Regions from separate parts of the Homo sapiens genome. Here region 2 is linked to region 1. The links come from fine-mapping of genetic effects on gene expression. A gene starts in region 1. The other region holds a variant in brackets. All regions are shown on one strand. Distances are between the middles of the regions. Region 1 holds the start of LINC01343 (long intergenic non-protein coding RNA 1343). Region 2 overlaps MIR3659HG (MIR3659 host gene).

The links.
Region 2: its variant is fine-mapped to the expression of LINC01343 in sun-exposed skin (GTEx, PIP 0.99). The same link has a PIP of 0.9 or more in unexposed skin.

The regions. Positions count from the first base shown.
Region 1 is chr1:38,206,978-38,222,681 of GRCh38, reverse strand. LINC01343 (long intergenic non-protein coding RNA 1343) reads left to right here and starts at 7,915. Exons shown (of 4, transcript NR_038928.1): 1 at 7,915-7,965; 2 at 10,231-10,584; 3 at 10,860-10,948; 4 at 11,860-13,648. It overlaps LOC105378654 (a long non-coding RNA gene), which reads right to left. Exons shown (of 7, transcript XR_001737987.2): 5 at 11,900-13,411; 6 at 10,175-10,434; 7 at 3,442-9,673.
Region 2 is chr1:38,097,642-38,110,974 of GRCh38, reverse strand. MIR3659HG (MIR3659 host gene) reads right to left here. Exons shown (of 5, transcript NR_168386.1): 2 at 8,479-8,558; 3 at 7,314-7,429; 4 at 5,223-5,343. Among named protein-coding and RNA genes, the nearest start is that of MIR3659, 15 kb to the right of the region's middle. The variant T/CGGCAT (reference allele first, on the strand shown) is at 7,465.

The DNA of each region.
Region 1 (15,704 bases):
GGCACTATGCATCTGCTCAATAGGTATTTGCCCTTATTATAACTGAACATGTGCTATATGGCTTTCTCTTGCCTGCCTTCTCCCTTCCTTCCCTTCTCCCAAGTTGGCATAAAAATTATTTTCCGTTCCTTGCCTCCAATTAGATATTGATTAGAGTATCTGATTGAGAATGAGCACTTAATAGAAGTAAATAAGTTCTGACATTTTATTTTTACTCTTGAATAAAAATGCTCACCATCCTCCTGAAAATGAGCCATCACATTTTATTTAACAGCAGAAAAGATTTGTACATTTGGCCCTGCAGGAGCTGAGGAATCTATTTTCATTATAACAAACATTGATTTTGCATTAAAAAGTCTCATTATTTGAGGTAATGACTGCTGGGCTCCTTAGTTATTCTTTTGGTTCCTAAATCATTAAAACTCCAACATTTAAAGAGCAAGTGGGTCCACAGTGACTCCCAAATTATCGCCAATGAGTCGCTCCCTGTGTGCCCTAGTCACGGACAAGATTCAGGAGCAGTGCAGACCCCAAAGCACACGTAGTGAAGTCCAGTTCTTTCTCTTGCAGTTTCAGAATTCTAAATTCCAAACGGACTTGTTTTTCTTTTACGACCATTTTACAAAATGAAAAGAGAAGGAAAAAAAACCCTCTAGTCTCTGTGTTTATGTGCAATCAGTTCTTTGAACAAATTCTAATCTTAAAAGAACTGGAAAGGAAGAAAGCAGCGTTCATCCCCAGGACTGGGAGTTGGTGGCATATTGGGTGATCATGGCGGTGGCAGAGGTGCCTGGTAGGCCTGCCTTCCACCAGCAGCAGATAAATTATTGACTTCAGGAATATTCCTCAGTGGATGGTTTTCCACTGTTACACTCTCTCTGATACAGGGCATTTATGCTGCCTGAGACCCGGCTGGACCCCTCATTGGCAAGCCACTTGTGACATAACTGAGTTTTGCAGAATTTCAACCACATGCACCAATTTGGGTAATGTATTCTTTCAGATGCCAGGACTGAGCTTTAAACAAAACATAATCCTGCCTGCATATCAATTTCCCAGGACTGTGAGGAGGAAAAGGAAAAAAAAAAAAAAAACCCAGAACCACGATGTTTTCAGCTGCTGCATTTCCATTTGAGGGTTAGCAGTGGGGACATCTGAACAGTATGCACAGTCTCCTGGTTCATTAGGAGGAGCACAAGGAAGGAAAGGGGGAACGGTGGGGAGTGAATCATAAAATATGAAAGGACTTCCCTGGAAATTGGCATCAATGTGATTTATTCAATCCAGACCTACACTCGACTATTTAAAAATAATTGAATAGTTGATACCCACTGCCACTTGTAAGTGACGGGAACATGGGCCAGGAGTGGAATGAAGGAAGGTGCTGGGAGGAATTTGAGATGTCCCAGATCTCAGCCCTACCCAGCCTTCTGAAAGAGGAAAAAGAATTCTCCCCGGACCCCGCCCTAACCACCAGTCACTTCTTGTGGGATGCTCCTCATTCCATTCCTGTCCACGCAGACGCGAGTTTCTGTAGAGTTGTAACCACCATATGTAAGCAATTTTGCATCCTACCATCTATATTTGGCATTGTGTTTGAAGCATTTTCTCTTTGTAAAAATCATTGGTTTTAAAAACATTACATAAGCAATATATGCTTATGGTAACAAATGCAAACTATGCAGAAATATATGATATAAAAAAGGGAACATTGCCCCTCCCCAATAGACACCCATTCCTTAAGATTGCCACTATTAACAGTTTAAGGCTCATCCTCCAGACATTTTTCTGTATCTATAAACACACACACACACACACACACACATATATGTATACTTTAAGACATTTTTACCAAAAAAAAAAAAAATTATGTTTTGCAACTTTTTTCTGTAAAAATGTTGTGAAAATATTTCATGTCAGTATATACAGAGACCCACTTCTACCTTTTGGTCTACTTTATACATTCCATTGCTTATTTCACTTATCCCTCATTGCCAGGCGATTAGAATATTTCCAATGTTTATCACACACCGTGCCACCATACATCCCTATACATACATCTGTGCAAATGTTTCTGTAGAATTGATTCCCAGAAGTGAGAGTGCAGATCTGAGCATGTGACCTACAAGTGTTTTCCACGTTGTTTCAGGCATCCCAATTATCACTTTTAGTATCTGCAGAACCACCTTTTGAATCCAACTTAGCTGACTCGCATAGCGGAAGGGAAAACAAATCTGTTTAAAGCTCTCCTATCTGCAACTTCCTTCCTATAGAAAAAAAAATAACTTGGCGAGCCCCTGAGGGTGTAAATATAAAGTGTCCACTCTAGGAAGTGGTCTGGAAAGAGACGGCAAAACTAAGAGAGGGTTGAATTGTGTGTAGAATGTGGAGTTTCCTGAAAGATCTGGGAGAAATGGATGTGTGGGGAGTTTATGGAAAGAGAATACCAGCAATATGGCAGAAAACTTAGGGTCCTATGAAAGAATTCCAACAGCAGGAACTTCCCCAGCATGGGTTTTGGCTGAGGGGTTTTTATATAGGGCCCGGATATAGGATCTTCACTTAAGAAATGTGATTTGAACTGCGCATAATCAATGGTGTTCTGGTGGGGGTTGAAGAACCAACTCTAGGGAAGGGGCTGAAAGACCTTGATGTGCAGCATTTGCTGATTTCCGTGATATAAATACTCATCCCATGGCACGAGTCTGCTGGAGGGTACTGAATGCCCCACCACTGTCCTATAAACCATTGATAAAAGTCTACTCAACCCAACATCCCTGGACCAGTGGACTCCCCGAGCAGAGGAAATCAGGTAGGGTCCAGCTTGGAGTGAAGAGATCAGCAAGTGAGGACAGGTGCTACAGGATCCAGAAGGGAGCTGGGCAGCCAGCTGCAGTGAAGACTGAGAAAAGGATGGGAAGCCTCCCTTGAGAATACTTAGGGGCTTCCACTGTGTGGAAAGGGCTTGAGTTACCTCTTTCAAATGTGAAGGAATTACCCCAAAGGCCTGGAAGATGTGGGGACCCCTGGTGTCCCATTTGGGGCGACTCTAGTGTTGCACACTTGAGCCTCTTGCACTGGCTAATGCTGGGATGAACTCTTTAGCTTGCACCCAAGACTCTACAAGCTAATCCTCAGCTCCTTCTCCACCCTACCCTTCCTCTTCCTGCCTGCACATTCTCTGTTCCACGACACCACAGTCCTTGCCAGTCCCCAGATACACGCTGCATGCACCCAACTGCAGGCTTTGCCCAGCCCTTCCCTCTTCCTAAACCACCCTTTCCCTCCATTTGGGCTAACCACCGCTATATCCATTCATCAAGGCCCAGTTCAAATACTCTCTCCCCAACAAGCCTTCTCAGGCAGAATCTGTCTCCCTCTCCCCTGAAGCCCCACAGTCTTTTGTTTAAATGGTTTCCATACCATTAGTTAATGGTCTCCCCACAGTCCAGAGAGCTCCACTGAGGAGGAGTCCTAGAATTCACTGTCTCCCTGTCCTCAGACAGCACAGTGGTTTCCACAAAGCTGATCTTAAGTCACCATCTAAGAAGCCTGTTATACACTCTGAGCCCTACCCCAGCATCTGACATCTATGTGATGGACCCCTGAAAGGTAAAAGAATTGTTCTTATCACAGAGGGAAAGAAGCTGGGCTCAGAGAGGCTTACCACCTTGCTTTGTCATCCAGCAGCAATGCTAGAGCTCAGGTCTTGCCCTTAAGTTCAGCCTTGTATTCTATCTGTCCGAAGGAGGAGGGATCTGCAAATGATCTATCCCAGGTGCTTCCCACCTGGGGCCTCAGCCTCCTGGGGATTTGCAGGTTTATTTAGAGGAGACCTCGCTTTCATTTGCACACAAAGGAGAGATGAGGAAATCCATGTCTCCGCCTCTTTTTTGTTTTGTTTTTGTAGTTTTGGGGTTTGGGGTTGTGTTGTTGTTGTTTGTTTGTTGTTTTTGTTTTTTACATTAAAAGAGGAACCACTGAGGAGTCCATCCCACATTTTACTGATGGTGAAACTGAGGCTCAGAGAGGGTCAAGGACTTGGTCAAAGTCACACAGTGAATGTGCACGCTTTGTCCTGTGTCAACTTAGCAAAGCTGGAACTACATGTCCCAGAATTTCCTGCACAGTTCTGGGTTAGGGGTGGCCACAAGAGAAATTTGTGTGAGATTTGGAAGGCAGAAGTGGAGCAGCAGCTTCATTTGCACTCAAGGTCTATGTGGGTTTGGGTGATTCTCAGCTCATGCGTGTGCAGCCCACCTGCTGGCTCACCTTGTTAGCTTGCGATCTTGGGGTGGCAACCCCAGATCGATCTCCTCTTTCAGCTTCTCCAAACTCGGGGCCTGGCTTGTGTGCAGCTTTGTGGTGAAGCGGGCTAGTTCTTCTGCAGATCACCCATATCATCAGTTGGAGGCTTAGAGGCAGTGGGAGGCCACCCAGGTGCCAGTGAGAAGCAGATGCCATCCCAGCAAGCCCTCAACTGGTGACGCTCCTCCTTTTGTGTTCAGGCCATTCTTTTGGGTTCTGCCTTGTCCTTGCTCACTTCCTCTTCCTGTCCATCTTCTCTTGCTGACCGCCAGCCCTGCTGACTCCAGGTCTGGAGCAGACACGTGAATACAGGCTGACACCGCTGCCTAGCAGCTCCCATGATCAGGAAAAGCCTTGCCCCGAGCATAAAGCCCTCGGATCACACACGTTCTGCTTCTCTGATAGAACTCTGATAGAACAGTGACCTCCTGCAGAATCAACAGCCTGAGGCTCCTGCCCCTGCTCTGGACTCCTTGCCACTCTCAAGAGGCTAGCATGATGACCTGAGTCCGAGGCCCCAGGCCCCAGGCCCTCCCCAGTGAGATCACTGCCTCCATCACAGGGCTGAGGCTCTCAGGTCTCCCCCAGCCCAGTGGCCAAGGGAGAGATATGTCTGGCCTGTCCCCCAGCTGTCCCCCAGCATGGTCCCTGCAGGCTCCAGGGACCCCAGTCCTTCCTCTCCTCATATAGCCCCCACCAGACTGCGGGGCAGACATCTCATCCTGGCTCCATATCTTCCCCCACCAGGCTGGGGTTTTTGAAGGCTATTTATTTCTCCTGGTCCCCAAGCCCATAACCTCTGAGCTGCCTTGGATGCCTGCTGTCCCAGGGACTCTATAAATAATCAGACAGTAAAGATGTCACACCACCAGCTTGGGCCACTGCCCAAGCAAGCCTGTGGCTGGCCCTTCCTCACGGGCATCTCCACCCGCACACTGAGCTGGGACTTATTACTGCTCGCCCCATATAGGGTTCCTGCAATCTACGGCAGGACAGTCTCCACACTTCAGCACTGAGCAGGGATTTCAGGATCAACTGTTTTCTCCTGTCCTCACCAGGCCCTTCCTTCCTCTGGAAGGTCCCAGGTAGCCCAGGAGACTCTCCCTTTTTGGAAGCTACTTCAGAGGAAAAGGTGACAGTAACACTGTGGAAATAGATGGATCTGGATTCCAGTGTCTCGACTACCACTTGCTAATTCTGGGACCTTGCAGAAGTCGCATCACCTCTCTGGGCTTTAGGTACCTCATTTATAAAATGAGGATATTAAGATGAGCCTCATAGGAATGTTGTGAGGATTAAATAAGGTGCTATATGAAAGCACATAGCCCAGGCTCTGGGCATGTTATAAATGGATGCCATCTTCTTATTATTCTTGTTATTTTTTTTTTATCACTATGGCCACCAAATTGCATGCTCCATGAGGATGAAGACTGTGCCTGACTTGTTTTCTCACTCCCTAGTACAGTGCCTGTCACATAATAGCACTCAATACCTATTTGTTAAATGAACGAAGGACTATAATAATGCTGACTGATTAGGGCCAGTGTATGTTTAAAGTACCCAGGACTGGAGAACATTTGGAGATTTCAGTAGGTGAGGTTGCTAGAACATTTTTTGTCAAGTGTGACCATCTGTGTTCTCTTAAAGTTTTTCTTTTGCCACCTGCCAACTACTGCCCCACAGGCAGTAACTGCGCTGGAATTCACCCATGGGGCAAGGACTTCCACACCTGCCAGCAGTGCAGAGCCAAGCAACACCTTGCTCCGGATGCTGCACCTATAATTAGGGCAGCTTTGACCCACAGCCCCGCTCTCCTTCAGGGCAGAATGCAAACAGGGTCCAGCCCAATCAAAAGGTACACCCTATTAATATCACCCATGTAACAGATGAGGAAACTGAGGAACAGAAGGATTACGTAAACTTGTCTAAGGTCACATGGCTAGTTAGCGCTGAAAGTAGGATTCAAACCCACCTATTGCTTATCATATACAGATCATATGCAGATCTTATATACTCTGTAAGGTAGCTATTAATATCTTCATATACAGATAAGGAAGCTGAGGCTCAAGGAGGGTTAGTAACTTGCCCAAAGCCACGCAGCTAGTACAGTAATCTTATATAGCATATGAGCATTTGATTCCAAAATTGGTACATCAGGCAAAAGTTGCATAGAGTTCAAATTTCTCTTCAATTCCTTGAAATCGGCTCCCTGGCTTTCTTTGTATATAACCTAGTACAGTCATTTTTACCTAAACACCCTTGAGTTTGAGAGCAGATGAGCTGAACTGAAGGAAGGACAAGAAGGAAAGTTTAGGCTGGGTGCGGTGGTTCATGCCTGTAATCCCAGGACTTTGGGAGACCAAAGCAGGCAGATCACCGAAGCAGGTCGGAAGTTTGAGATCAGCCTGACCAACATGGAGAAACCCCGTCTCTACTAAAAATACAAAATTAGCCTGGTGTGGTGCCGCATGCCTATAATCCCAGCTACTCAGGAGGCTGAGGCAGGAGAATCGCTTGAACCCAGGAAGCGGAGGTTGCGATGAGCCAAGATCATACCATTGCACTCCAGCCTGGGCGACAGAGAGAGACTCCATCTCAAAAAAAAAAAAAAAAAGGAAAGCCTGGGAGAAGGCATCAGGACATAGGAACACAACATCATTCAACTGCTTCAGCCTTTCAATCATGATTAGCCCCCTGGCACACATGAAGCAGGGGAGGAGATGTGAAGCATTCCTACCAGGCTCACTTAATTGAAATTTAATGTTAGTGCCCACTGGTCTTAATATATATGAATAGATGTCATTGTTAAGCCGATTAAATGTGTAACATATGTAAAAGCACCTGCACAGTGATGGGCCTAGAGTAGGTGCTCAATATATGTGTGCTAAATTTGAATCTACAATCATTCATTCATTCAGTACGTATCGAATTTCTACTAGGGGCCAGGCCTCAGGGGAACAGCAGAGAACAAGACGGACAAGATACCTGTCCTTATGGAGCCAACATTCCAGTCGAGGAAACACACAATGAGCAAGAAAACTAGTAGGTACACAATAAAATGTCAGGTAGTGATGGGAAGAAAAATAAAATGGATGGGGGAAAGAGAGTAGTGGGGCGGCTCTTAGATAGGGCAGGGAGGGCCTCTCTGAGGAGGTGGCATCAGAGCCAAGAACTGGTCTGGCCCAGACAAACCGCCCACATGTGGACACCATTGTCCGAAAAGTACAAAACCTGGTCATCTGCTCCCTGCCTTTCCAAATTCACATTTTATTTTGTGGCCTCCACTGAACAGCCATCACTGCCATGCCCTTAGGCATTGGGCTCATGACCCCTTACAGTGGGAGGGGAGGGGTAAGGAGGGGCTGCTAATGTGATTCCTCTGTAAAAGGTGAATCAAGCTCATGCCCATCCACCTGACACCAGGGCACTGGGTCTCTGTACCACGACACAGCTTCGGTGCTAGAAAAAATCCAGCTGTAGCTGTGGAGACAAGACAAAGCAATGACTTGAACCAGAATATTGATTCTAGAATCTCATGATGCCTCTGATCCTGAGGGTTCTGGAGCCAGGAAGGGTCCTGAGACACACCTAGCACTTCACATTCACTAAGTCATGCGTGATCATCAAATCATTTGATTAATTCCCTTACTCTTACAGGTAGGCAGACTGAGGTCCAGAGGCCATGGGACTCTCCGCAAACCACAGAGCATCAGCGGTGACAGAGATAAGAACTCAGCTCTCCCAACTCCCAGTCTGGTGCTCTTTATACCAAAAGTCCACCTTCCAGTTCACGGGTAATCAAAAACTTTCGTTTGGTCTGGGGTCGTTTCAACAGCAGATGTGCTCGTCTCTGTGCAGGACCTGCCTCCCAGGGGAATACGGTAGTGCTGAGAAGAGGGTGTGGACGGACTAAGGGCTGAAGAAGTCCTGGAGACGGGGTGGCGATGGTGAGTGTGCTTGCTGAGCCCAGGAGACGGACCGCAGCACCGGGCACTCGGGTGGGGTCCAGAGGAGAGGAGCCTCCTGCAGGGACAGCAAAGCTGACGAGAGGACAACATAAAGCCACTTCTGTCTTTACCTCGCATTGCCTTTGCACCACATCCATTTGGGTACGGTGCAAAGCTTCTCCCGTTTTATTCCTAAGTCTGAAACCGCCTAGCGGGAGGAGGGAGAGGAGTGTTCTTTCATTCTCTAAGGGCCTCCCGTGTGCCGTATGCTGGGAACTTCTCCTTTCTCATTTTATTTCCTTCACGCAACAACCTTGTGAGACGGTGATTCTCATCCCTGTATTACAGATGGGGCTCGGAGCTCAGTGTGGGGGCAGCTTGCGCAGCAGCCCCCTCCACCCTCTCGCCCCAGGTCACCACTCAGTGGTGCAGCTGAGATTCCAGCCAAGGCCTGCAGAGCAGAAGCCTGTGCTCTCTGAGGCGTGGTCTCCCACGCGGCCAGCTGGAGGGCTCCTCCGGAAGGGTTTCCAGGGAGGCCATGAGGGCTGTCTAGATTGATAGCGAGTTCCCCACATCCTGTAACCCCTCCCTGCCAGGCCTGTGCCCGCCGCTCTGGCTGCAGGCAGGGAGCGAGGCTGGGCGCTAATTTACACTTGTTTAACTACAGCTGCCGCCCTCCCGCCATGTGTCTGTCCGCCATTTATTGCGCTTTCCAAAGCCCTGCCCGGCACTCAGGGGCATTTCCTGCCTGCGCTAATGGAGGAGAATAGACGCATTATATGTGAATAATGGATTATGATGATACAATTTGGGTCTCTTAGCTCTCACCGAGCCTAGGCTGGCCTTGCATTATTGATAACTTACACACACCTTCCCGAGCGTGTTTATGTAAATATTTAATAGGGAAAGCAAGTTAATCCATTGGTTTCAGCCATTTCCAGAGCACTAGAAGTAAGGGCCATGAGGGGTGACTTGGGGGGCCCCCAGCAGGAGTTAGTTCTCTTTGGAAAAGCCGGGAAGTTGCCAAGATGCTCACTTGGCCACAAGGAGTGTATGGCCTTGAGGTTTGGGGTTTTCCAAGAGCTGAAACAAAAGGGTAGGGCTACCTCACTGTGGGAGATCACCTCCGGTCAAGAAGACGAGTTGTCCAACACAGGCAGAGCAGGGTGAGGATGTTGGGATGAGGGGTGCAGATTACTGGAATGCAGCTGTGGTGGACGTCACCACTGAATAAATCGAACCATTGCTTCCTATCTTACATGGCCGATTTCCTGTGCTTCCCCATGGCTTCCGCATTTCACACTCCATTGCATGTTGGAAGGCAATGCTTTAGAGACTGCCTGGGTTTCACCCTGGGCTCCACCACATGCCCACTGGACGGCAAGTTAGTTAATCTCTCTGTGCACTGGTTGTCACATCTGTAAAATGGGGAACTAATTTATTTGTCTCATAGGTACCCATTGTTGGTGCAAGAATGCAGTGAGATAATATATCTGAAGTCCTTTTACAGTGCTAGGCAATACTACCTATTACCATATAAGCCACAACTGGAAAGATGCACATGCTTTCACATGGGTCTTCATGCCATGGCACACATTAGCCGGCAGTGTTTCTGAGTGGTGTAGAAAATAGTTGTGCATCCCAGACACAATGAAATATGGTTATTTTGCTAATATCCTGTTTCTGGCAATTAAACTACTGTGTATCCTTTGGGAAATCACGAGGGTGGGCATGTGCCCCATCTGCTTATGCAGAGGGTGGAGGACCAGGCAGAATCAGGAGATCTGAGCTGGCCTCCCTCTGCACCCCACCCCAGGCACCTGCCTCCTCTCCAGCTTATCTCCCCCATCCCCTTCCCGGGTTGCCATTGACAACCTGCCATTCTCAGAGCATGCTTCTGAGCTGCCGAGCCTTCGCACCTGCTGGCTCCTCCACCTGAATGTCCTTCTCTCTGTCCTCTTCCTGGAAACCCCAGCTGCCTCAGGATATGGTTCAGTCATCACCTCCTTCATCCAGCCTTCTCTACCTCTTTGTCTTAACATTGAAATGGCCAGCGTGTTCTTCTACCTGCCTGCCAGACATGCAGGCCCAAGGTACCAGGAGGCAGATGCTGACAGATGCATCTCAGTATGCCCGGCACCTCCACCACACAAGGGCTGTGCTGGTTGCTGTGGGAATGCTGCAGGGCACAAAACGGATAATGCTGGAGGGAGAAGACAGCAAACACAAGGCTCAAGAAACTCCAGTATGTAAGAAGAGGACATGCACAATGGAAGAGGGAAGCCACCATGCAGAATGTCGGGGTGCACTTTTAAATGGGACAGTCAAGGTAAGCCTCACAGCAAAGGTGACCTCTGAGCAGAGGTCTGAGGGAGGTGAGGAATGAGAAGAGTGAACAGCCAGTATGAAGATCCAAGGTGGGAGTGTGCCCCTGGTGTGTTCACGGAAAGCACCAAGGTAGGCGTGGCTGGCACAGAGTAAGAGAGGGAGGTCTTAGCAAGCGGGGAGGTTCAGGTAGTACAGGGCCTTGTGGCCTTGGCAAAGACTTTGCCTCTTGGAGGATTATAAGCAGGTGTGACTGGGTCTAGTGTTTGTGTTTTAAAGGGATCATCCTGGCAGCTATGTAGAGCATTACTATAGGGGTCAAGTACCGCAGCAGGGACAGCAATTAGTAGGCTACTGCAAGAGTCCAGGTAAGATGTGATGGTGCCTTATGCTAGGGTGGTGGGAGTGGGGGAGGTGATGGGGGATGGCTAGGTGCTGAGGTTCTAACAGAGGTGGAAGGTGGAGCTGTCCGGGTTTCCTGATGGTTTAGGTATTTGAAGTGAAAGAAATAGCAGAATCAAGGATGACTCCAAGGTGTCACCAGAAGGATGGAGCCATCATTAACCAAGTGGGGAAGACTGTAGGGGCGGTGGGGAACAGGTTTGCAGAGGGGAAGATGAGGAATTCCATTTGAGATGCATTATTAGACATATTAGATCTGATATATCTATTAAACACCCAAGGGGAGAGTTTGAATGGGCAACTGCTTGTAGGAGTCTGGAGTTCTGGGAAGAGGGTCGAGGCTAGCATTAGAAATGTGGAAGCCATCAGCATACAGATGGATGAGCTCACAAGGGAGAGAGTGTAAGGAAGAAAGACATGGAGGCCTGAGCCCAGGGCGCTGCAAGGAGTAAGGTGGGGAGGGAGGAGAACCAGCAAAGGATGCAGGAAGAAGTGCCCATGGTGAAGGAGGAATACCCACTTGTTGAAACTTCAGTGTGTTGGCGCTGTAATAAACAATTATGATAAAATAGCCACCATTAATTGAGTACTTACTCTTTGTTAGACACTTCACATATAGTTTTCCCTTTGATCCTAAGATTTGGGAGTTCTCATTCCCATTTTACAGATAAAGAAACTGAGGCTCAGAAAGGTAAATCTGCCTGACCAATGTTTCACAGCTAGTTATGGCAGCACAGCAAAAAACCCAAGCTTCAAGTCAGCCCAACTAACATTTTTTGACCATCTGCTGGGAGCTGAGTGCTCTTGATAGACATTATCCTATTTAACACTCTCAATACCCTTGCAAAAATAGATGTCATTTCTACCCATTTTACAGATGAGGAAACTGAGGCTTGGCGTCTCATTGAGTGACCTACCCAAAAGTTACCCAAGGAGAAATGGGCTCGCAGAGATTTGAATCCTGGTCTCCGGCCTTCCTTTAGACACTTGGGGTGCTCCCAAGTCTGCATTTGGAGAGGGGAACAGCATTAAAGTATCAGCTGGAGCTTCTCAGCTTGAAATCCTAGGCCTCTTCCAGAGGCCAGATGTTCGGATGGTACCAAGGGGCTCTCCGCTGAGTCCTAGGCTGGGAGCAGAGAGGGAGGGGACTCTGTTACCAAATCCCAGGCTGGGCACTCCCAGGGAGTCCCTTCCTCCCCACCTGCATGGCATCTGGCCTCCGCCAGCTCCTGCCTGGCTGCCAGATATACCAGCTGTGGCTCCTCTCCACGGAGAGTCTCATTTATTAATTAACGTGGACGCCAAGGGGGCAACTTCTCAGGCCCAGCCTCAGAGCAGATCTTGGCACATTTTTCAGACTTTGTTTAATAATTTATCATCTTTTAATCATAAAAATAATTAGCACAAGAGTGATAATCTATGCTCTGCCGAGAGCAGACCAACGGAGGAATTTTCAGACAGTGCCAGAACCCAGAGAGCAGAGCTTTGGCAGCGAGGAGAGGAAGGTTGGCTCCAGGCCAGGTGTCCTCTCCAGGACTGGCCCCTGGGAGTCAGGTGTCAAAGATGCCGTCTGGCTTTTGGGGGAACTCGAGGACCGTGCTGCTTTCCTGGGAATTTGAGGCTCCTGCTCCTAACTCTGACTTGGCTCACTGGATAGCTCTCTGGGAAGTTCCTTCTCTGGGTCTTAATTTTCCCACCTGTAAAATGGGAGTTCAATTAGATAATGAGTAAGGACACTTTTGTTCAAGGCGCCATGATCCAATGAGATAGCAAATGTAGAAGCAGTGGCTGTGGCAGTAAAGACAGTGAGCTGGAGTGCCCATGAGAGCCACGAAGCCTTCCACAGTCCCCGCCACCTCCCACCCCGCCAGCTTCTGCATCCCCAGGTGCTCAAAGAGCCCTGGGACAGACTCAGTTCTGCCAGGTATAAGCCGTGTGGCCTGGGGCAAGTCCATCTCCTCTCTGAGCCTCAGTTTACCCATCTGAAAAGAAAGAGTGATCGCTCATGTCCTGCAGCTCTCCCAGAGAAGATCCAAGGGAGAGGATGACAGGGTTACCCCTTGGAGACATTGATCTCATTCTGCCCCACATTTAACTGCCACTCCCTGTCCAGACTTTCGGTTCTAGAGGGCAGGGCAGGACTGCCTCATCCTCTGTGCCTGATAGCCCTGGTAGTGACCGAATGAGCTCAATGTTCTGCCAATTCCAGCAAGGTGTCTTGAGATTGTTCAACCTGTGCAGGCAGACACATCCTCCCACCAGGGCGGCAGCACGGTCCGGTGACTGTGGGTAAAACCACAGCAGTTCAAGAAAGCAACTCCTCCTCTTCTTGTGGGGTCTTGTACAAGCTGCTTTGCCTCCAGCTGCCTCAGTCTCTTCATGTGAAATTGGGGATATCTGTCTTAGATTGGGGGTCCCCTGAAGCAGACCTAGAGACAAGAATTCAAGATCAAGTCATTTATTTAAGAAGAGATCCTGGAAGTTCCAGTAGGGAGTGGAGAAGTGAGACTGGGAAGGGGAGGAGAGCAATGAAAGGCGCGTGAATGAGCTGGTGACCACGCTGGACCCAGGCCTACTGGGGCCATCTCAAGGGTTGGCAAACTACAGCCCACAGGCCAAATCAGGCCTGCCTCCTGAATTTGTAAATAAAGTTTTATTGGAACACAGCCATGCCCACTCATGTCTGTATTATCTGTGGCTGATTTTCTGCCACAATGACAGAGTTAAATGGTTGCAACAGACACCATATGGTCCTCCAAGCCTAAAATATTGACTCTCTGGCCCTTTGCCAACAAACTTCCCCAGCCTCTGGTCTAGGACATAGCGTAGAACTGACCTCAGAGCTGTCTCCTTTGAAGGAGAGGAAGCTGGACTCTTTATGCTTCCACCCCAGTCCATTGCTGACTGTTCCCAGGGGCCCTAACACCTACCCCCCTACACATACACTTCCAGTGCCAGGGAAGCACACTCTGGCAGCCAGAGGAACCCTAAGGAAGAGTCATGGCAGGTATGGGGCAGTGAGTGCCCAGGGGAAGTTGGAGACTGGGGCATCCAGGGCCGCTGCTGCAAGATCTCACTAAACTGTTAGGAGGACTAGATCAGATCATAGTTGGAAGTACCAAGAACAGGGAGTGCCCTCTAATACTCCACACCTTCCATCATCACCACCAGCCCCTAACCAAAGTCATTCCTGGCTGGCTCATTCCCAAATGATCTGCGTTCATCTCCTTGCTGGGCCTCTGCCTGCCTGTCTTTCTTAGGTGCTGCTGATTTCCGAGCTCCAGGTGACTCTGGTCCTGGGAAGAGGGTTCCTCCCCAGGCCCCAGCTCTGGTCACAACTGCACTCGCACTGTCCTCTCCCTGGCTCCGGCGGGCAGTCCTGCCTTTCCTGCTTCATTCTCAAGTGCCTCCTGCCTCCTGCCTCCTGGGACCCCATAAGCCCACCCACCTGGGCTCTGTCCTCCTCAGCCTGAATTTTGGACCTGCTCAAGGTGGGCAGGGGACACTGCCCTCTGGTCTCCATCCCAGCAGGCGAGTCTTCTCTTCCTGGTCAGTTATGCCACCCTTCGACCCCACCACCACTCTAAGTCAATTCTGCTCTTGCTCTCCTGTGCCATCCAGAGGCTGTCAGTACCACCTGGGCCCGGCCCTCACCTTTTACCCACCCCTACTGGTGAGTATTGTGGGCAGTCGGCTCTGGGCTGCTTTCAGAGAAGGACATAGGCAAATGGATTTGATGATCAGGGCTCAATCTGGGGTCATGGTCAGGGCTCAGTCTGCTCAGTCTAAGACCAAGGTCCCGGCCCAGTTGAGCAGAGGCCAGAGTCACAGCTCAGTCTGGGTTCCAGTTCAGGATTCAGATTGAGGCTGGAATCAAGGCAAAGCCTGAGGTCAAGGTCAGGGCTATACCTGGGCCGAGGCCCAGGGATCAGTCTAACCAAGAAGCACAGCACACCCAACTGGTTTATCTAACCGCTTAGCCCAGGCCATAGCTCCTGCTCCTTGGCTCGCCCCCCTGGCCCTCCCTGGGAACCTCCAGCCTGTCCCTCCCCACCGGGGTGCCTGCATTTCCATTCATGTGTGCGCCCTCCTGGCCAGGCAGTGAGGATTCCCAGGTCCATCTGTCTGCTGAGCTGTCGTGGGAACCAAGCTCAGCGAATGGGCCCGAGCCTGTCTCCCTCCGGAGCCTGCCTCCAGACTGTTGGCGTTCACGGCTCTGCCTCGCAGCCTCCGAGCTGGGCTCACGCTGCTGAGTCCAAACGCCGTCCACTGCTCAGTTCCAGCCAGCCACCAAGCACTCCCCAGATGGGCAGGGACCACGCCATGCCTGCCTGCCTCCTGCCTCAGGCACTGCTCGCTCCCTGCCAGAGGCCCAGGGGAGGTGCCCAGTCCCCAGACTCACAGCCCTGGGGGCCATGCAGGGCCAGGGGAGGGCAGGGAACCCACCTCCACCAGCTCCAGGACCCTGAGCACCATTCAACCAGTGATTCCCTCCAGCCTGGCCACTGGCCCTGGTGAGGCCTGGCCTCCCTCCCTCCAGGTGCCTCTCGGCCTGTGTCCTCTAACCACAGAACTGCCCTGAGGTCTTGGGGAAGCCAAGGTGAGCCATGCAATATGACCCCCAGGGCCTCCGTCTGAGAAGCTCCAGGCAGCATGGAGTCCAGAATCAGGCAGCCCTGGGCTTGCATGCCGCTGGTGCCACTTCAAGCTGTGGGACCCTTG
Region 2 (13,333 bases), 110 kb after region 1:
TCTAACCAATACTTAAAAGTACAAAAAAGAAAGTAAAAATCCTACCTCCCAGATACAACCACTCCAAGCATTTTGGTGAACAGCCTTCCAGACATATCTCTATGCATATATACACATAGAGATCTATGTATATAATTTTATAGACGAGGAATTGTATTATACATACTGTTCTCGCTGACACCTGCTTTTCTCTCTCAACAATATGTCCTAGACATCTTTCTATGTCAATAAATAGAGCTCTACAAAATTATTTTAATTACTTCATAGTAGTCCATTATATGTATCATACTTTATTTAACTGGGTCTTTACTGATGATCATTTAAGGATGTTGTGAGAATTTTGTTCTCATAAACAATGTTGTGATAAATATCCTTGTGCATATTCTCTTTGCTCATTTTTGCAACAATTGCCTTAGAATAAAATCCAATAAATGAGATGGCTGCAATTAAGGGTATGCTATTTCTATTTTGCCACTCTGTCCTTCAGAAAGCTTACAACAGCAAAATTCTCATCAACCGTGCCCACACATTAGTCCAGACCCTCATCAAGCCTGGGTTTTGTCAGCCTTAATGTTTGGCCAGATCAACAGAAGGCAAATGATGCTTGTTTCTATTGGCATTGCTAAGATTATAGGGAGGGGGAAATAAATGTCTTTTTGTTTTTTCAGGCATTTGTAGTTATTTTCTTTGTGAATTGCCTGTTCATGTCCTTTGCCCATTTTTCTAATGAGATATTTATCTTTTTCTTAATGATTTGTAAGAGCTCTTTGTACATTAGAAATAAAATTAAACTGTTGTCATATATATATATATATATATATATACACATACATATGTATATACCCCTCTTTTAAAATTTTCTTATAATGTTCTTTAAGGTACTTAAATGTTTAATTTTCATATAGTCAAATTTATCAATCTTTTCTTTTATGATTTCAAATATCACGTCATACTTAGAAGAATCTTCCCCACCTTAAGATGATCAAAATATTCACTCATATTTATGCCATGTGGTCTTCATGGCTTGAGCTTATTAGACCAAGTCAGAGAGTTCTTACCCCAATAAGGAGTGTTGCTATGGCTGGCCCATTATCCCAACGCCATTTATAAAATAGCCCATATTTTCCCAACTCAATTAAAATGCTGTTTTATCATATAAAAATACCTTAAGGCTGGGTGCAATAGCTCATGCCTATAATCCCAGCACACTGGGAGGCCAAGGTGGCAGATCGCTTGAGCCCAGGAGTTCAAGACCAATGTGGGCAACATGGTAAAACCCTATCTCTACAAAAAAATCCAAAAAATTAGCTGGGTGTGGTAGCCTGCACCTGTAGTCCCAGCTAATCAGAAGGCTGAGGTGGGAGGATCACTTGAGCCCGAAAAGCCAAGGCTGCAGTGAGCCAAGATCACACCACTGAACTCCAGCCTGGGCAACAAAGTGATACTCTGTTCCAAAAACAAACAAAAATTCCCTTAAATATCTGGGCCCATTTCTAGACTCTAGTCTGTCCCAGTGATCTGTCTGTCTATTCCTAGACAAGAATTTTAATTATATTGTGCCTTTATAAAACATTTTAATATCTGATAGAGTAAATATTCATCATTTTTCTTTTTTGGAATTTTCCTTATTCTCATTTGGTATTCTTCCAGATTAGCTTCATAATTATTTTGTCAAAAAAAATTCTAATCCTGTTGGGATCTTGATTGGATTATCTTAATTTCACACATTTGTTTAGGAGAATTGACATCCTTAAAGCATTAAATCTTTCTACTCAAGAACTAGGTATATACCATATTTATTCAAACTCAGAAGAGTTTTCTTCATGTAATGCTACACACTTTTTTGTAAAGTTTATTTCTGAGTATTTTGTGTTTGTGTTTTACAGTATGGATGGAGCTTTTATTTTACCTTCTAGATAGTCATTTTATAAATAGAAAGACTGTTAGTTTGTGTAAATTTTTTTGTTACTGGCCATTTTACTAAACTCTATTTTTTCTGATTGTTTTACAGAATATTGTCTTGAGTTTTCCAGATAAATAATCATCTTATCTGCAAACTATGATTATTTACTCCTCTCTCCCAACATTTATACTTTCTGTTTCATCTTCTTATCTAATTGCAATGCCTAGCACTTTTGGAAAAGAGTTTTTTAAATGTTGATAACAATGGTTATCCTGATCTGGTTTCTGATTTTAATGACAAAACATCTAGAACTTCACCAACCTAATATCTCTCGTTCCATTCTCTCCACCTCTGTAGCCACTATCTTATCTAGCCCATCCTAATTTGTCAACTGTGTTACCATAAATATGGTGAATAAGGATACAGGGTTTGAAGTCAGATGACCTGTGTTCAAATCCTGACTCCACCATTTGCTAATTATGTGGTCTAGTCAAGTTACGCAAGATTTTGGAAAGTCAGCTTAAAAAAAAAAAAAAAAAAGAGGGATGGGGGAGGCTCTTTTAAGGATTAAGTGAGATAATACATGAACTATGTGTAGCATCCATAAATGATAATTTTTAAAGTCTCAGCCCCCAATTTCTCTTTCCAATCCTATATATATATATATATATATATATATATATATATATATATATCCCACTCTTACGTTGATCTTCCCAAAATATCACTGTGTTCACATCACTTATCCTTTCCCTTCCTCTGCTCACAAATCTGAAGCTACACCCCATTGCCTACAAAATCAAGCCCAAATTCTTAACCTTGCATTTGAGTCATTCCATTATTCAATCCCAGACTTTCTTCTAGTCTCATTTCCTATAGACCTCAGCCACCCTCACCCCACTACGCACCCTCACCCACCCTTTACTCCCGCCTACAGGGTCTCCTCATTCATGGCTGCCTAACACCAAGTAGACTCTCGGCTCCCTACTCAGATCCCTCCATCAGCCCCCGTATCAGCCCCTGTATCCAAACTGGCCTAATAAAGCAGATTGATTAGTTCATGTAATACTCCAGATGCAACAAACATCAGGCATAGTTTGACTGGGGCTGGGACTCCATTTTTCTGTGATTTTCCAGGTTCTTCCCACCTCCATATGTTGGCTACATTCTCAGGTTAGTGTTCCTAGTCACCAGATGCCTGCCAGAAACTAGGCCCACATGTTTCCTCATTCAAATCCAGATACAAAGAGATTAGACGTGCTTCCCCAGCCATCTCACCAAAACCCCGAGTTTCTGTCTGATGGGGCCAATCTGAATCAATTCCAGTGACTAGGAGAATGTATGTATGGTTGGTTTGGAACCAGCCAATGTGCCAAGGTCAGAGAAGGGGGCATTATCTGAATTGGCTAAACCAATCAGGATCCACCTCAGAGCCACACACACTGATGGAGACAGAGGTGGCGTCGACAACCTCACTTGCACTACAGCCTCTTCCACTTCTCTTCCCTGGGACTTAGGCTTCCTTTAAGGCCCAAGTCAAGCCCCAGACCTCTGGCAATGTGCCCCTCCATTTGGCTCCTAGAGCTCTTACTCTGCTTGACGCATAGTAACCACTGCCATATATAATTTATTTATGTAGTCATTTGTCTCATCTTTCCAATTAGTAGTCACAGAACTGATTGAAGCCTACAAAATGCTTTCCACAAGCTAGCCCCTTTGACCTTCACCACAGTCCTGTGAGACTCAGAGGGGTTAAGTGATTTGCCCTATGTCACACAGCCAGAAACAACATTGTCCCAGAGGCCTCTGCAGCAATTGCATACACACACACACACACAAACACACACACACACCACAATCCCTCCTCTAACCTGCAACATTGGTCTGATCTGAAGATGCAGAAACCCCCCTGGAACCACCTCCTTTTTCCACTTCACCTCAATTTCTAGAGCTCTTAGTTTTCCTCCAAAAAGTACAGGGAAAGTTTTCTTGCCAGACAGCAGTTTCTAAGATTTGTGTGACAAGGCCAAGTAAAATTCAAATGACTCTGGGTGATTTAATCTGCTTGGGGCTGGGGTGGTAAATCAGGGCAGCCCAGGCTGCCACAGCCGCCCCAGAAACGCACGAGCCAAGCTGATGATAGGAGTTTATCTGCAGATCTGCAGGTGAGGGCCCTGGAAGCATGAACTGTGGCCAGGGGAGTTCCCCTCCACTGCACTCAGAATACATTTGGAAGGTCCTATGGCCCACAGCCTCTCTCGACCTACATGTTCCACCAGAAACCATCCTTCCCAAGGCTGCAGCCCCAGTTCCTCCCTCTCCCACCCCCCACCCCATCATCAGAGCTGTTTCCCAAGTCCACACTGGACTTTTCAGGGGAAGGAGACCAGCATGGGTCAAGCTCTCACTGAAACTGCCGCCTCAATGCCAGGCCCTCATGTACCCATTACCTCATTTCATCTTTACAACAACTTAATGAGGGAGGCATGCCCATCCCCAGTTTACAGGTGACTTAATTGAGGCTCAGAGTGATTAAATTTCTTGCCCAGGGTCATTACACAGCTAGTAGGAGGCAAAGCCAAGATTCAAATTTAGTCTCATGAGACTCCAAAATCCCCATCCTTTTAACTCTACCCCATTATGGAGGCCAAGAGGAGTAAGAAGATGGCAGCTTCACTTGGGACCATGTTGTTTGAGAAAAGAGAGGAGCAGGCCCTGGTGGAAGGGAGGTTGTTATTGTGAGCAAATGAAGCAACAGTATTCCCATAGAGAGGAAACATCAAAGGAAAAGGTAGTCACACTTAGGTACCCACTGTGCTAAGCAATATGTGTATATCTGGGTACCATGTGCCAGGTGCTCTACGTCCATCATCCAAACCACAACTCTATATGCCATAAATATTTACTGTTAGCTGGTAAATACTTACCAACCAGCTTTTTGAAAGAAAAAAGGAGTCCTGATTTGTAGCATTTGCCAATTTCTGTGGTGTAAATACTCCCACGATGGTCAATTTCAAGCTACCAATGGGATGTCAATGCATGCAGAATTGGGAAGAGATGCCCAAACGTTTGCCAGTAGGAACCCACTCCAGTGGGTTCTGTTAGCCAGTAGGAACCCACTCCAGCACTCTACTGTCAGTAACAGAGGTGTTGTTAGGCCAGGTGTGGTGGCTCATGCCTGTAATCCCAGCACTTTGGGAGGCCGAGATGGGCAGATCAGTGAGGCCAGGAGTTTGAGACCAGCCTGGCCAATATGATGAAATCCTGTCTCTTTAAAAATACAAAAAAAAAAAAAATAGCTGGGTATGCTGGCACACACCTGTAATCCCAGCTACTTGAGAGGCTGAGGCAGGAGAATCACTTGAACCTGGAGGTGGAGGTTGCGGTGAGCCGAGATGGCACCACTGCACTCCAGCCTGGGCGACAGAGCGAAACTCCATCTGAAAAAAAAACAAAAACAAAAACAAAAGTTGTCGTTAAACCCACTTAACAAATGAGATCATACAAAAGGTGCTTGGGCTAAAATCCATGCCTTTATAATTTTCTAAAGTCCACATTCCCTCCACAGCTCCATGTTCCCAGAAACAAAGATGATGCAAGGAACCACAATCACTGATCTCTAATCTCTGAAGGAGGGTAGACGCCAGTGAAGTCCTGAAGGGCAGAAGAAGGCCAATGGGTAAAAGTTCAGCTGCTCAATATTCAGTGTATAGAAGAACTTTCTGAATGCCCCTCTAGGCTGACAGCTACGGAAAAGCAGTATCCAGGCATGGCTGGCACATAGTAAATGCTCAGTAAATAATTAATGAATGAATGAGACATTACACACTGTTCCATTGATACCTCAAACTCACCAGATCTAAAACTCAGCTATCTTTGTTCCCAAAAAATCCCTCTCTCCTCCTGTGTGTCCCATCTCAGTGAATATCACCAAGCCAGAACCTGAGAGTCCTTGTATCTTCACTCTTCTCCACTCCCCATAGCCAATCAATCAACAAGTCCTATCTATTCCACTTCCCAAATACCTTGTGAACAGGTGCTATCCTCAGTGTCCCCACTCTGCCACCCTGACTGGGACCATCACCACCTCCTGCTGAGCTGACACACAGCTTCCTGACCTGTCTTGTCAGCACGTATCCTTGGCCTGTATCTGCTCCCAGCCCCTATCAAATCCATGATCAACAAAGCTGCCAAAGTCATCTTTCAAAATTGTACCTCTGAGCATGTCACTCCCACAGCTTCAATGAGTCCCCATTACCCAAAGGATGGAGTCAAACCCCCTTGGTCCTCCCGAGGTCTGGTCCCATCTCCCTCTCCTAACTGATGACTCGCCTCCTCCCACACCCCACATTGGTCTTTTGTGGTTTTGTTTTTGTTTTTGTTTTTGTTTGAGACAGGGTCTCACTCTGTCACCCAGGCTGGAGTGCAGTGGTGCCATCTCGGCTCACTGCAACCTCTGCCTCCCAGGTTCAAGTGATTCTTCTGCCTCAGCCTCCCAAGTAGCTGGGATTACAGGTGTGCGCCACTACACCCAGCTAAATTTTGTATTTTTACAAAATACATGTTGGCCAGGCTGGTCTCAAACTCCTGATCTCAGGTGATCCACCCACCTCAGCCTCCCAAAGTGCTGGGATTACAGACGTGAGCCACTGCACTCGGCCACATTGGTCTTTAATCTTCAATGTCAACCTGCTTAATGTTCACTGCACCGTGCCTCCACCCATGCCTTTGTTCACACTATGTCTCCTGCCTGGAATGCCCTCTTTTCCCTCTTCCATCTTTTGCTTTCCTTTGCCTGATAACTCCTACTCATCCTGTAGGATGTAAAGGAAGATAGTTTAAGTAGATGATTCCTGGAGATCTTTTTAATCCTAACATTTCATGATTCTAATGCCAAGTCTTGATATTCAAGGTCCTCTGGATATTATAGTCACCTTCTTTCTCCTTAGGACCCTGCAAAGGTCTCTAGGGATCCTGTAATCCAACTCTACCATTTTACAGACAGAAAATTGGACACCCAAAGAGGGAAGAGGACTAGCCCAAGATCACACAGCAACTCAATGGCAGAGCCAGGACAAGAACTGGGCACCTGCTTCCCAGCTCAGGGCTCTTTCTTTGCACTACATCTTCCAACCTGATCCTCCTCTGCCAACATGGATATTCTCACCACAACCATCACTACCCGACTCAGACTTACCTCCTCTCACCAGAGCCATACTCACACCTTGCCTGCCTTGGCCCAGGATGTTGCCAGGCTGTTCCCTCAACTCCACTCAACTTCCAGGGTCCTCTACCTCCAAGAAGCCTACCTTCATTATCAGGCCAAAACCCTCCACACCCACTCTTACATACCCTTCCCCAAACCAGCCATGTTTGTCGGAGCCCAGCAACTAGGGCTTGGTTCACTCACATGCGGTAGGTGTCTTGTTCAGTTTCACCAGGCAGGATGTCCACTCCTTAAGGCTGGCTGGTATCTCTTCATCTTCTTTCTTCTCCTCCCTTTACATCCCCCAGCTCGATACACAACTGCTCAGGGTAGCAAAGTATAGCCAAAAACAGCA[T/CGGCAT]CAGAGGTCAGACAGATGGAGGTTCAAATCCCAGCTCTGTATGCCCTGCAGGGTTGACCTTAAGTCATCTGAGCCTCAACCTTCCTTATCTGTAAAATAGCTCCTACCACCCAGGGTTGCCATAAGGACTGAATGAGCTCACCCATATTACAGGCGTAGCACTTGGTGGGCCCTTAATAAACGAGAGCTCCCTTCTCCACTGCCTTTCTCACTGAAGCCCAGGACACTTGGAGAAATTGACTCCTCTGGGCTGGGAGAGGGGCAGCCTCATGAATACTTTCTCTCACTCTCATCCTCAACAGGCTACGAGCAGCCTGCATACAGACACATGGGGCATTTCCAACCCCCTTCCCCACCCCCAACAATCTGCTTTAACCTTCCCATCACAAATGCCTTGTTTATTTCAATATCACCCGTTTTACTTTTCCGTTCACGCAAAAAAAAAAAAATTACAAAAACAGATTTAAGGGGAAAAAAAGTATTTAATGAGTAAAACTGTCTGTAGCTCTGTTTCTTTCTCAGGAAAAAGTGGCTGTGATTCTGGCATAAGAGAGGGAAGCTCAACAGCTTCACTTCATTGCAGCTGCCAGGAGAAGCACATTTCAGAGTGGAACAGAATCTCCAAATTAAACAGCGCGTCTTCCAGCCAGGAGCTTCCTGTGCCGAATTCAGCTTGGCAGGTGACATCCCAGCTTAAGCAGAGATCCAGCCCCAATGTGAGCAGCTGCAAGGCTCCCTCCTGTTGCCCCTCCTCCAGCATAGGAGAACCAGCCTGGCCAGGCCCTGGCAAGCCACTGACCACCAGAAAAAGGGCTCTAAGAAGGGAAGGAGACAGCTGGAAAAGGAATGGATACACCTGGCCAGTAGGAACTAGGGAACCAGGAGCTCTCCCCGTTCCAGAACATTCAGAGACCAGCACTTTCTTCTCCCTTGACTTAGGGTAATTGGGCATAAAGAACAAATCCAAGACAGACCTCAAACAAAAACCCAGAGAATATGCAGTGTCTTTCCCACCTTCAAAGGTGTCATTTTGGAGGCTGCTCTGGATGGAATCCAAGGGTCAAACTCCAGAAGGACTCTGCCTCCCCTAATAACTTGAAAAGAAAGGGAGAGAACTGGAAAAACAGAAAATAGCACATGACCTTCAAATACCTGCAGTACAAACTGCCCCAGGGCAGAGAGTAAACTGAGGCTAGAGAGAGGCCCCCCTCCCTTGTCCCAAACACCATACTTCTATTAATGTAGCCTACTGACTCATGCTGAACTTACTGGCACTTGAGCTTCTAAATCTTTCTCATGAGCTGCCCATCCCTTCTACAATTTTTCCTGTAGTCAAGATGGGCCTCAGCCTTTTTCCCTGTGATATTTCCTCAGCTAAATTCACCTTGCCACGCCAGTCTGTCGAGATCTTTCTAAATCCTGATTCTGCTGAGGTTTTCTCTGTCCCTTGGAGCTTTCTACCACTCCACCTTTTATAAGTCTGTATCCTCCATGTCTTCTTATAGGTCCTTGGCATAGACTGATCAAAGCAGGGTGGACAGCCCCATGGCAGTGTCTAGAGGCCTTCTGTAGACTGACCTGGTTACACTTACGTGAACATTTCATGGCTGTTGTTTGGCCCAATGGGAGCCCTCTTTGCGCCCTCTCAGACATCCTTCATGTCCTCAAAAGTCACGAGAGACTCTACCCAACATCTTAGGAGACAGTGTGATATGGCAGAAAGGGTCAGACAGACCCAGGTTTGAATCCCAGCTCCACCCACCTTGGGCAAGTCACTTCCCGGAGACTCAGTTTCTCATCAGTAAAATGGAGATTGTCACGTCTTGTTTAATCCACAAGCTTGTGAGGATTAAATAAAACCATGCGTGTGAAGTATCCAGCACACAGTTGGTGCTCAATAAATCACAGATTCCTCTCCACCCATGCTGGCTCGTTTTCTTTACCCACGAGTCATTAAGCTGTCAAGAACCTAAGAGCTGTGCCCGGTCTTGGTGAACCCATGTTGGCTTCAGGGATCACTGCCTTCTTTTGTATGTCACAGATCTCACCATCCATATTAGACCCTCATACTAATTTGAGATCGGCCAAAACCCTGGATCTTTTTTTGTCTGAATTCCTGTCAAGACAGTCCTTCCTTCCTGGACCTGTACAGCTTTTTAAATAACAAGAATAACAGTAGTAATGACAGCTTGATCCTTCCAATCTCACTATGAAATTTTTTTTAAAGTATCTGCATTGTGCCTGTCAGGAAACTGAGGTTCAGAGAGGTTACATAACCCTCCCAAGGTCACACAGCTGGAGATTGTGAAAGCTGAGTGCAGCTGTCTGACCCTGACCACCACACTCACGCATTAGAGAATATTTCCTAAATGCTGGCCTAAGGGGGCATATTGTCTCTGGCCTTGCTGCATGTGTCTTTCAGCCTCAGCCCAAAGTTTCACTTGGTTGAGTGCCTTCTAGGTCCTGACACTGTCATCCACAGGGTGGCCTCCCCTCACCCCACCTCCCAGCCGCTCTGTGCCCACCACCTTCATATTAAATGGGACTGGACTGAGGCACAGACCCCACCACTCCCTGAAGACTGAAACAGTGGGCTTTTCATGTTGGCCCCCAAGCCCACATCACACCATAAACTCTTTGATGCCTGGGCCCCCGATGCCCCCACAGCCCAAGCATAGGGCCAGCTTGGACCCTCTTTCCCAACCCCTCATCAGGGCTTAGCCACCTGCCACCAAACCCTGATGCCTCTGAACTGACCACTGCCTCCTGAATCCCTGGTGCCAGGATTACCCCCTGTCCAAGTGGCACCCCAAGGCCCCTCTTCCCAGACTGTCCAGGTGCTGAGGCCAGCTGCTGCTCATGTGGCTGTCCTCCAGCACTGACTACAGCCTTTGCCCTTCTCCTGATGCCTCCCAGCCCAGGGCTCAGACTGTGCTATAGGGTGAGGGAATTCCCTAAGCATGAGGCCCAGATGTGCCCACAGGCAAAGGAAGGGGTGGACCCAGGAGGCTGCCAGGGACAGGGCTCAGGCCTGTGGCCACCAGGTTTGCAGCCCACCAAGGAAAAGATTCCTAGACATTCCTAGGGAAGCCATTCATGGGTCTGTTTGCAAATCTTTGACAATACCCAAGCAGGATGCCCCAAACCTGAAAGCTCTATCAGAGACTTGCCCTCGGGCCTCAAAGTACACAGTTACCCACATCATCAAACACAGTCACCCACATCATTAAAAATGCAGTCCTGACTGGGCATGGTGGCTCACGCCTGTAATCCCAGCACTTTGGGAGGCCAAGGTGGGTGGATCACTTGAGCTCATCAGGAGCTCAGGACCAGACTGGGCAACATGGCGAAGCCCCATCTCTACCAAAAAATACAAAAAAAAGCCAGGTGTGGTGACTCACGCTTATAATTCCAGCTAATAGGGAGATTGGGGTGGGAGAATGACTTGAGCCCAGGGAGGTGGAGGTTGCAGTGAGCAGAAATTGCACCATTGCACTCCAGCCTGGGTGACAGAGTGAGACCCCATCTCAAAAAAAAAAAAAAAAAAAAAAAATGCAGTCCTTGACTATCACACACCCACACACACTTTATAAACACATTCACAGAAAACACTTCAAAAGCCCACTCATGCCCGCATGACACACAGAAGCCCATCCATCCACTCAGTAAATATCAATTAAGCACCTGCCAGCTGCCAGGCACTGTTCCAGGCACCCGAAAGACATCAGTGGACAAACTGAACAAAGGTTCCACTCTTTGTGAGGGCTTTCATTCTAACAGGGATACTAACAATTTTAAAAACTTAGGATAGTACATAATAAATAAACAAAGCTAGACATGGTGGCTCACGCCTGTAATCCCAGCACTTTGGGAGGCTAAGGCAGGTGGATCAACTGAGGTCAGGAGTTCAAGACCAGCCTGGCCAACATGGTAAACCCTGTCCCTACTAAAATAGAAAAATTAGCTGGGCTTGGTGGTGTGCATCTGTAATCCCAGCTACTCGGGAGGCTGAGGCAGGAGAATTGCTTGAACCCAGGTGGCGGAGGTTGCAGTGAGCTGAGATCGCACCACTGCACTCCAGGCCAGGTGACAGAGTGCAACTCCCACTCAGAAAATAAAAATAAAAAGTAAACAACAATTAGTAAATCACTTGGTATACTGGAAGGTAATTTAAAAAAGAAAAATGAGAACAACATAAGAAGAACTAGAGAGCTGTGGGGAGGGGAGGGCAGAAATTTTTTTTTTTTGAGACGGAGTCTCGCTCTGTTGCCCAGGCTGGAGTGCAGTGGCACGATCTCTGCTCACTGCAAGCTCTGCCTCCCGGGTTCACGCCATTCTCCTGCCTCAGCCTCCTGAATAGCTGGGACTACAGGCGCCCACCAACACACCCGGCTAATTTTGTTTTTGTATTTTTAGTAGAGACGGGGTTTCACCGTGTTAGCCAGGATGGTCTCAATCTCCTGACCTCATGATCCGCTGGGGCAGGCAGAAATTTTAAGTGGAGGTCAACACTAATTAAGAGTGACACTTAAGGGAACTCTTGAAGGAGATGATTAAGTTATTCATTCATTCATTCAGTGAATGTTCTTGGACATCAGCTACACCATCATGTGCCAGGGACTGTTGTAATAGTGGGGATACAGCCATGAACAAAACAGGTAAAACTCCTACCCTCATGGGGTTTGCATTCTAGCTTTCAGGAGAGAAACCATAAACAAAGAAGTAACTACTAATACCCAGTGTGTCCAATGGTGATCAATGTTACGGAGAAGATGAAAGCAGAGGAGTAAGAACGGGGAGCCTCCCATATCCACCCTCACAAATCCTCCCACTAGGCAAACACACACCCACAGATCACCTCCCAAGCTCACTGTCACACACGCTCACGCCAGACTCTACACAGACTCACAATACAAACACAGGTGCATGGCATCCTCGCTGCTGTAAGTACACTCACCTGAACATACAAATACGCCCACATGCAGGCAAAAACACATGCACAAACACCTACAACACATCGACACACGAACATGCACACAAACATACCCAGCATAAACACGCAAATGCTCACCAAACACACACGCACACCCCAAGCCCGGCTCATTCAAGCCTTGGAGAAACACACCCTCAAGGTCACACAGAGAAACTAGACAGTCAGAACTGGCAGAACCCTGGGGAACCAGCAGAAGCTGGAGCCCGGAGAAAAGCGACAGCCTGCCCGAGGCCTACAGCATGGCCATGGCACTATGGACACCAGTCCGGTCCTGAGTCCAGTCCCAAGGCCAGCACGATGCAGCACACACTACCCCATCCATAGACTGTCAACCTCAGCACTCAACAAAGACACTTACGCTTGCAAAACACTCACAGAAACACACACACACGCTTGCACACAGGGACACACACAGAGGCACACATGTTCATGCAACAGCACAAACCTCATTCCTCTCCCATGTAACAAGGCGGGGTGAGGTCTAGAGAGTTTCTTGCAATTTCAGCATCCCTTGTCCACTTCACCAGCTTCCACCCACCCCACACATCACAGCCGTTCCAGCCACTGACAAATTTTCCTCCTGCCCTTACCTGTGGCCGTGAGCTGTTTGCACATGCAGATGCATCGTGCGTGATTGCTTACATGTGTGGTGTGGAAACGGGTGGACATGTTTGCGTGTAAGTATTCAAGTTTGCAGTGTGTGAACACCTTTATGTGTTTATGCAAGTGTGTGTGCACCTGGGTGTATGCGCATGTTCTCAGGAAGAAAGAGATTTACAATCTAAATCCTGTTTCTCCAGGGAATGAAAGAAAGCAAAGTTCAGGTTTAAATCACACCACCGTGGGCAGGAGAGGTTCCCCTGCCCTACTTGATTA